Homo sapiens: one gene and its partner. The protein of the gene in region 1 interacts with the protein of each later gene in a biochemical or structural test. Each region holds a gene or a part of one and is shown on either strand. Other genes may lie near its edges.

Region 1 (3,817 bases):
TAAAAGGACAATAGAAAGTACATATTACTAAAATTCTTCTGAATATAAGGGAGTCTTTGATGATACATAAATAAATCCAGGATTCCGCAGAGCCCTGGGAACACCAGTATAAACAAAAGTAGCCATTACACGGAACTGAAGCAAAATTGGGCCTATTTTTGGTTCTTTGGATTCTAGATCACAAGAACTGCCCGCTTATCAACTTGAAGAGAAACAATTGGTAAAACAGGGAAACTTCTAGGTTAAGAATAAGAAAAGAGGAGATGCCCCAAAGCAAGAAGCACAGCCTGTGAAGTCCGTGTCTCAGGACTCAAAGCCAGCAGACACCCTGACACGTGGGGTTTTCCCTGGCCTGGGGACATGGACTTCTGTCTTTGTCCCCAAGAGGGCTCAGCCCACGTGGAGAGGCTGCCAGGTGAGATGGCTCCTCCATAAACCAAAAAAAAAAGACAGAGGTTAAGTACCATGTCAGCTGGCCAGGGGAAGGTCCCACATGCTCCCCCAACCCCATCCTAGACTATTCTACCGTCAGCACACGTTTTCCCCTCAAATGCTGAAGGACTCTTACGCTTTTTTTTTTGTAGAGACAAGGTTCTTGCCACCTTGCCCAGGCTGCTCTCCAACGCCTGGCCTCAAGTGATCTTCCTGCCTCAGCCTCCCAAGGTGCTGAGATTACAGCCATGCACCACGCCCAGCCTAAAGGACTTTTAATTCAAATGGAAATGTCCACCTAAGAAAGGCTAATAATAAAACACTCCGTCTCCGGTAATATCCCGGAGAATCTGTTTCAGGCGCTGATCTTTATATCAGTAACTTCAACAAAGCAAAGCCACCTTTGTCTGAAGACACGCCCACTGGGGAGGTGCCTGTCTGGCCAGCCCAGGTTACACCATCTGGGGCAGAGGAGAAGTCGGTGCACATGAGTTTCACTGTGTCAGGGGATTTAATTTGAAATACTGAACTGGAGAAACCAAAGCAGGATATTCGGAGGAGAAGTCAGTGCACATGAGTTTTACTGTGTCAGGGGATTTAATCTGAAACACTGAACTGGAGAAACCAGACCAGGATATTCGGAGGAGATGGCACGAGTCAGGAGGAAGACAGGGTCTCTAGTCCTGGCTCTGGTACCCTGGGCAAATCACTGGACTCCTGATACCAGTTTCCTCTCTGTATGAGGAAAAGCATATACCAGATAATCTGGGTTCCCTTCCATCTCTAACATTCAATAATTGTTAATACCAAATGCAGAAGGAAGAGCAAAAATGTAGCTCAATTTTCAAAGCCCACAGTGAGGTCAGTAATGATATTCCATTTCTTAGTTGAAAACACTGCTGACAGCCGTGAAAGGTAAAATTCTATCTATGCCTTACATAAAAATTGCTGAGCAACAAAGAAACAATAAATCAAGGATGTCCTAGAGATTTAATTTTCTTAGCAGAAACTATGTTAGTCATTAAATAACTGAATATCCTACTCCTGATAAACACCCTTACGTCAAACAGCAAGTGGTACTTCCCATGCTTCCTTAACAAGGTAAGAATTACCTACTTCAGCAGCCACCAGCACAGCTGATGATAGAACATTAGTCCCTTAACTCCCCAAACAGGAACAAGATAAAAATATCTGTCGTCCCAACCTTGTGTAACTTTGTTCAGATAGTTCTGGCAAAGGCAAATACAACTCATGAAACATAATGAGAAAGGAGATTGTCAGAAAGGAGACAAAATGAGCACAGTTAGCAAACAATTTGATGGTCTACCCAAAAAGCAGCCAGAATCAGTAAAATACTCTTAAAACTGAAAAATAATGGAGTAACTGGGCTACTAAAAAAATAGGAAAAACAGACCCCAGTAGAAACACGTGCAAAGGACATTAACAAATTTACCCCCAAAAAAGAAAGACAATAGCTAATAATTATATTTAAAAGTTTCAACTTCAGAAAAAAATATCACTTTTTTGATATATACTATGTGCTAGGTCCACACTGAAAGACCCTTACCCTCTGAGATAGCTGCTGAGAACACCTACGTTTTATAAGCAAAGAAATCGGGCCTTAGCTCTTTAAGTACCATGTCTCCAGAGAACCCAGGGCAACAATGGCAGAATGACGGCTGGAAGCCAGGACCGCATGGCTCTGTAGTTCACTCTCTTAACACCATGGTGCACAGCCTTCCCAAAAAGCAATGGTGGAGAGTACATTAAAGATGCCTTTTCAAACCATGAACCTTGCAAATACAAAAACAATTCATGCTAATACTGACAAAGACAGGCAATCCTTCTCACGCCATGCAAGTAATACGGAGGCAGCAGGGACAGAGCTTGGCCCGTACCCACTCCCGTATTTTCCATACATCCCCCACGCCATCACACCTGCCCACCAGACCATGCAAACCAGGGAGGGAAACAAGATAAGCCATGTTCCACCCCAAATCTTACCCAAGGGAGTTAAGCCTGATGCCCACATGCATACAGGATCAGAACGACGATCCTGACCTCTTGCCTTGTTGTATTACTAAAACCCTCTCCTCAGGGGCTCATCTGCCATGCCCTGATCATGACACATCTGTGCTAACATGATGTTCCCCGGTGCCTGCCACTAGCGTGTGTAATGCTGCTGACACACCTCATGACTATCCATGTCACCCTAAAACACCAGGAACACCTGTCCCGAGGGCCAGCCCGGGAACTCCTGCCCCTGTGCCGCTGCCCTCCTGCTCCAGCATAAGCCCATTATAAAGCCTTGTCTGGGACACTTTCTCTGTCTCATGTCAATTTCCACTGCATGAGAATCTAAGAACCCACGATCAGTAACAATACTGTAAATTGGTACACCAGTATTTCCTGAGTATGATTTAGAATTATGTCAAAAATAAAAGTAAAATACAATAAAGTGAAGGAAGAAAAGAAAATGTCATGGAAACATTCATACTATCTGAATTAAAAATTCCACTTCTAGGAATTTCACTGAAGGTAAAACTCACAGGTTTTGTACATAATAAAACATTATGTACAACATTATGGGATATAAATAGGGCTAATAATAATAAAAATCACAGTAATGACATGGGAATACACAAGATTACATTAAAAAAGATATAAAACTATACATACAATTTAAATTTATCCATGTAAATTAGGAAAAAAGGTAAGTGTAGGCACAATTTACAGACAGAATAGAGGGAAATACTATACACCAAATGTTTCTAACGGTAATTTTTATGTTTTTTGTGTTTTTCTGGATTTTCACATTTTCTATAGCATATAATTTATGGAGGGGGTTGGTTAACTCTTCTTTTTATGAAATTACTATATATACATTCAGTTTAAAAATCAGGTGGTGTTAAAAGAGATGTTATAAAAGACAACAAGCTCCTTCTCAGCCCTCCCAACTCCCCAGAAGCAATCACTTCCAAACCCTTTGCTCTTTCTTCTGGTATTTACCACCATATTTCTACATAACGTGTATACTACTATTTTTGACCTAATAACTTTATCATGTTTTATTTTATGTATGTATTTATTTTTATTAGGGTAGGGGTCTCACGCTGTCGCCCAGGCTGGAATGCAGTTGCATGATCACGGCCCACTGCAGCCTCGAACTCCTGGCCTCAAGCAATCCTTTAGCGTCAGCCTCCTAAAGTGCTGGAACTACAGGCACCCGGCCAAATTCTAGACATTATCTATTGCCTTCCTAATCTAGAGGCCGAGGGCCCGGTCCCGATCCACAGGTTTGCTTTATTATCACTAAATAGCATTCGATGCTAAGCCAGGTGGTGGGATGGGAACCCATTTCCTTTTTATGTAATGCTGATTTGCC
Region 2 (3,817 bases), on another chromosome or scaffold:
TGCAACCTCCGCCTAGCGGATTCAAGTGATTCTCCTGCCTTAGCCTCCTGAGTAGCTGGGATTACAGGCACACACTACCATGCCCAGCTAATTTTTTGTATTTTTTAGTAGAGACGGGGTTTCACCATGTTGGCCAGGCTGGTCACAAACTCCTGACCTCAGGTGATCCACCAGCCTCAGCCTCCCAGAGTGCTGGGATTACAGGTGTAATCCACTGCGCCCAGCCTCATTTGTTAAATTACGTACTCAACAGACATTTTACAAAGTTCCTGCTACGTGCCAGGCACTATATCAGGTGCTGGGGATTTTAAGAGAATCAAATACAGTCTCTGCCTTCAAGGAATTCAAAATCTCAAAAGAGAACAAAAATACAAAATATTAAAATGATTGCGGCCGGGTGTGGTGGCTCAAGCCTGTAATCCTAGCACTTTGGGAGCTGAGGTGGGCGCCCAGGCCAGGGGTTTGAGACCATCCTGGCCAACATAGTGAAACCCCCAACCTCTACTAAAAATACAAAAATTAGCTGGGGTGTGGTGGCACGCGCCTGTAATCCTAGCTACTAGGGAGGCTGATGGGGGAGAATTTCTTGAATCTGGGAGGCAGAGGTTGCAGTGAGCTGAGATCATGCCACTGCACTTCAGTCTCGGCAACAGAACAAGACTCATCTCAAAATACATAAATAAAAATAAATAATTCAATAAAGTGATTGCAAGAAAAGTTCTGTTCAAGGCACCAAGAGACCACAGGAAAATGAGTGTCTGGTTTGCCAGAAAAATGAGAGATGGCTTCCCAGGAGAGGCAGAGTTCTGCCTGGCCTGGTGGGATGCATGGATGAACAAACAAGTGGGCATTCCAGTCAGAAGAAACAATCCGTGGAAAGACCCAGAGGCATGAGAAGCTGAGCTAGCAGGGACAGGTAGACCAGGGCCAGTTGAAAAGGACCTTCATCACTTTTTCATCCTGCTGGCCAAGAGAAGCCACAGAATGGAAGCTCCATGAGGGCAGGGCTGTGACTGTCCTATTGGTTGATGTGTACTGAGCACCCGACAGTGCCTGTCATATGGTAGGCACTTAGCGAATATTTGGAGGCCACTGTTGAGTGAATGGGAGAACTGCTGGTTGCAGAGGAAGAGGGGCTGGGTGAATGCAGGTTCAGGATTGTGGACCTGCATGAGCTGGGAGGTGGGGGATAGACAACTTTGCAGGGAGAGAGGAAATAAGTCCCCAGGCTCCAAGGCTGACCGGGGTGGGGTCTCCGCAGGTAACTGTGCTGAGGGTCTGGGTACGAACTACCGAGGGCATGTGAACATCACCCGGTCAGGCATTGAGTGCCAGCTATGGAGGAGTCGCTACCCACATAAGCCTGAGTGAGTGAGGGGCCGGCCTTCCCACCATGGGCTGAGAACAGGGAGCAAGCGTACCTCAAGCCCAACAGCCTCCTGTTGGGCAATTTCCTGTTCCAGAATCAACTCCACTACCCATCCTGGGGCCGACCTACAGGAGAATTTCTGCCGCAACCCCGACAGCAGCACCACGGGACCCTGGTGCTACACTACAGACCCCACCGTGAGGAGGCAGGAATGCAGCATCCCTGTCTGTGGTAAGCTGGGGGCAGTGGGGCGGCCCATGGCCAAGGCCCGGGGGCTTCATGGGGCCTGGCAGCCTGGGATGGGAACCAAGAATACTGGCTACCCAGGCACAGTGGCTCATGCCCGTAATCCCAGCACTTTGGGAGGCTGAGGCAGGCAGATCACCTGAGGTCAGGGGTTTGAGACCAGCTGGGCCAACATGGCAAAACCCCGTCTCTACTAAAAATACAAAAATTGCCAGGCGTGGTGGTGGGCGCCTGTAATCCCAACTACTCTGGAGGCTGAGGCACGAGAATCGCTTGAACCCGGGAGGCGGAGTTTGCAGTGAGCTGAGATCCTGCCACTGTACTTCAGCCTGGGCGACAAGAGCAAAACTCTGTCTCAAAGAAAAAAAAAAGATGCTGGCCACCTTCAGAGCTGGCGTCAGTCATTCAGATCATATCTGTGCCTATTGCTCAGTAAAGTCAGGGAATCAGGGGATCTGAGTGGGGGGATCTGCCAGCCTCCTCCTCCCCCTCCCCACTCTTGACTTCCTTATGGTCCAGGCTGTGGCTCATTCCAAACATGCCTCCTTTCTGATCAAGGCACTCCTCCCTCCGGGAAGCCCTCCCTAGCCATTTCAGTCCACACACCCTGTTCTGAGTATCACAGAGCAAGCCTTGTGCAGTTTGGCCCTGCGGGATTCTGTCATTATTATTTCCTTGGTGTGTTAAGTAGCTATAGCCACCCCTTCCCTGAGGCAGACCACAATAAGCATTTCTTTTTCCCATGAGGGTTGGCAGGTGTGGCTGCACTCGCTAATGCGTCTGTAGGGTCAACTGACGGAGGTTGGCCCTGGCTGGGTGGCTCTGATTCAAATAATGGGTCCAGCTGAGTCTGGCTCCTCGTTGAGGGTTGGGCCTAGATCTGCTCCACGTGCGTTCATGCTGGGGCTGAGGCTGAAAGAAGGTACCTGGGAAAACTCTTCTTATGCTGATGACAGACACAGAAAACAATGAACAGAAAAGCGTCTTCTGTCCTGAAGGCCTGGCTCAGAACAGGCACAGTCAGCCCTGCCCACGTTCCATTGGCCAGAGCAAGTATATGTTCAAGGCCAGGGTCAAGAGGTAAACTACACCTCAGCCTGTAAAATCACAGAGCAAGGGATGTGGATGCAGGCAGGGGTAAAGAATTTGTGCCGATTACCAGTCCACAAACATGGGTTAGTGTTTGTTCTCTAGGCATCCCTGTCGGGCCCATTGCTCATTCCTGGGGTTGGTCTTTTTTTTTTTTCTTTCTAAGATGGAGTCTCACTCCCTTGCCCAGGCTGTTGGAGTGCAGTGGCCCTATCTCAGCTCACTGCAACCTCCGCCTCCTGGGTTCAAGCGATTCCCCTGCTTCAGCCTCCTGAGTAGCTAGGATTACAGGCGTGTGCCACCACTCCTGGCTAATTTTTTTTTATGTTAGTAGAGACGGGGTTTCACCATGTTGGCCAGGCTGATCTCAAACTCCTGACCTTGTGATCCTCCCGCCTCGGCCTCCCAAACTGCTGAGATTACAGGGGTGAGGCACTGCGCCCGGCCTTTTTTTTTTTTTTTTTTGAGATGGAGTCTCACTCTGTCACCCAGGCTGGAGTGCAGTGGCATAATCTTGGCTCACTGCAACCTCCACCTCCTGGGTTCAGGCGATTCTCTGCCTCAGCCTCTCATATAGCTGGGATTACAGGCACACGCCACCACGCCTGGCTAATTTTTGTATTTTTAGTAGAGACGGGGTTTCTTCATGTTGGCCTGGCTGATCTTGAACTCCTGACCTCCGGTGATCTGCCCAGCTCGGCCTCCCAAAGTTCTGGGATTACAGGTGTAAGCCACTGCGCCTGGCCCCTGGAATTGGTCTTATAGCAAGTTTATCCCAACAAAAACAGCTACTATTTACTCCCCAACCCCCATACACACGCACACACATTGATGATAAATAAGTTGCAGGCTTGCAGAAATTGACCCATCCAGGTGAACAGCCTAGTGATCCCAGCAAGCGTCCTGCTGTGCAGCTATAAAAACATGACTCCTCCAGCAGCTCCAGGCAGCCACTACCAGTTAATTACAGATGGCCTAGGAGGCCAAACCTGGTTACTATCTCTGGTTTATTATGTGCCAGACACTTATGCTGTATATTTTGTTTAATCCTCTCAACAAACCTGCAAAAGTGGCATTAGTAACCCCTTTAAAGGCAAACGGTCAGAAGCCCAG

What was found.
Region 2: the proteins of SERPINB6 (region 1) and F2 form a complex in vitro, tested with the Homo sapiens proteins (one study listed by BioGRID).

The regions. Positions count from the first base shown.
Region 1 is NC_000006.12:2,961,326-2,965,142, forward strand, and holds part of SERPINB6 (serpin B6), read right to left. Parts: intron 806-3,817; exon of another isoform or gene 1-805.
Region 2 is NC_000011.10:46,721,919-46,725,735, forward strand, and holds part of F2 (prothrombin preproprotein), read left to right. Parts: intron 1-1,261; coding exon 1,262-1,367; intron 1,368-1,463; coding exon 1,464-1,600; intron 1,601-3,817. UniProt on the Homo sapiens protein: Thrombin, which cleaves bonds after Arg and Lys, converts fibrinogen to fibrin and activates factors V, VII, VIII, XIII, and, in complex with thrombomodulin, protein C. Functions in blood homeostasis, inflammation and wound healing.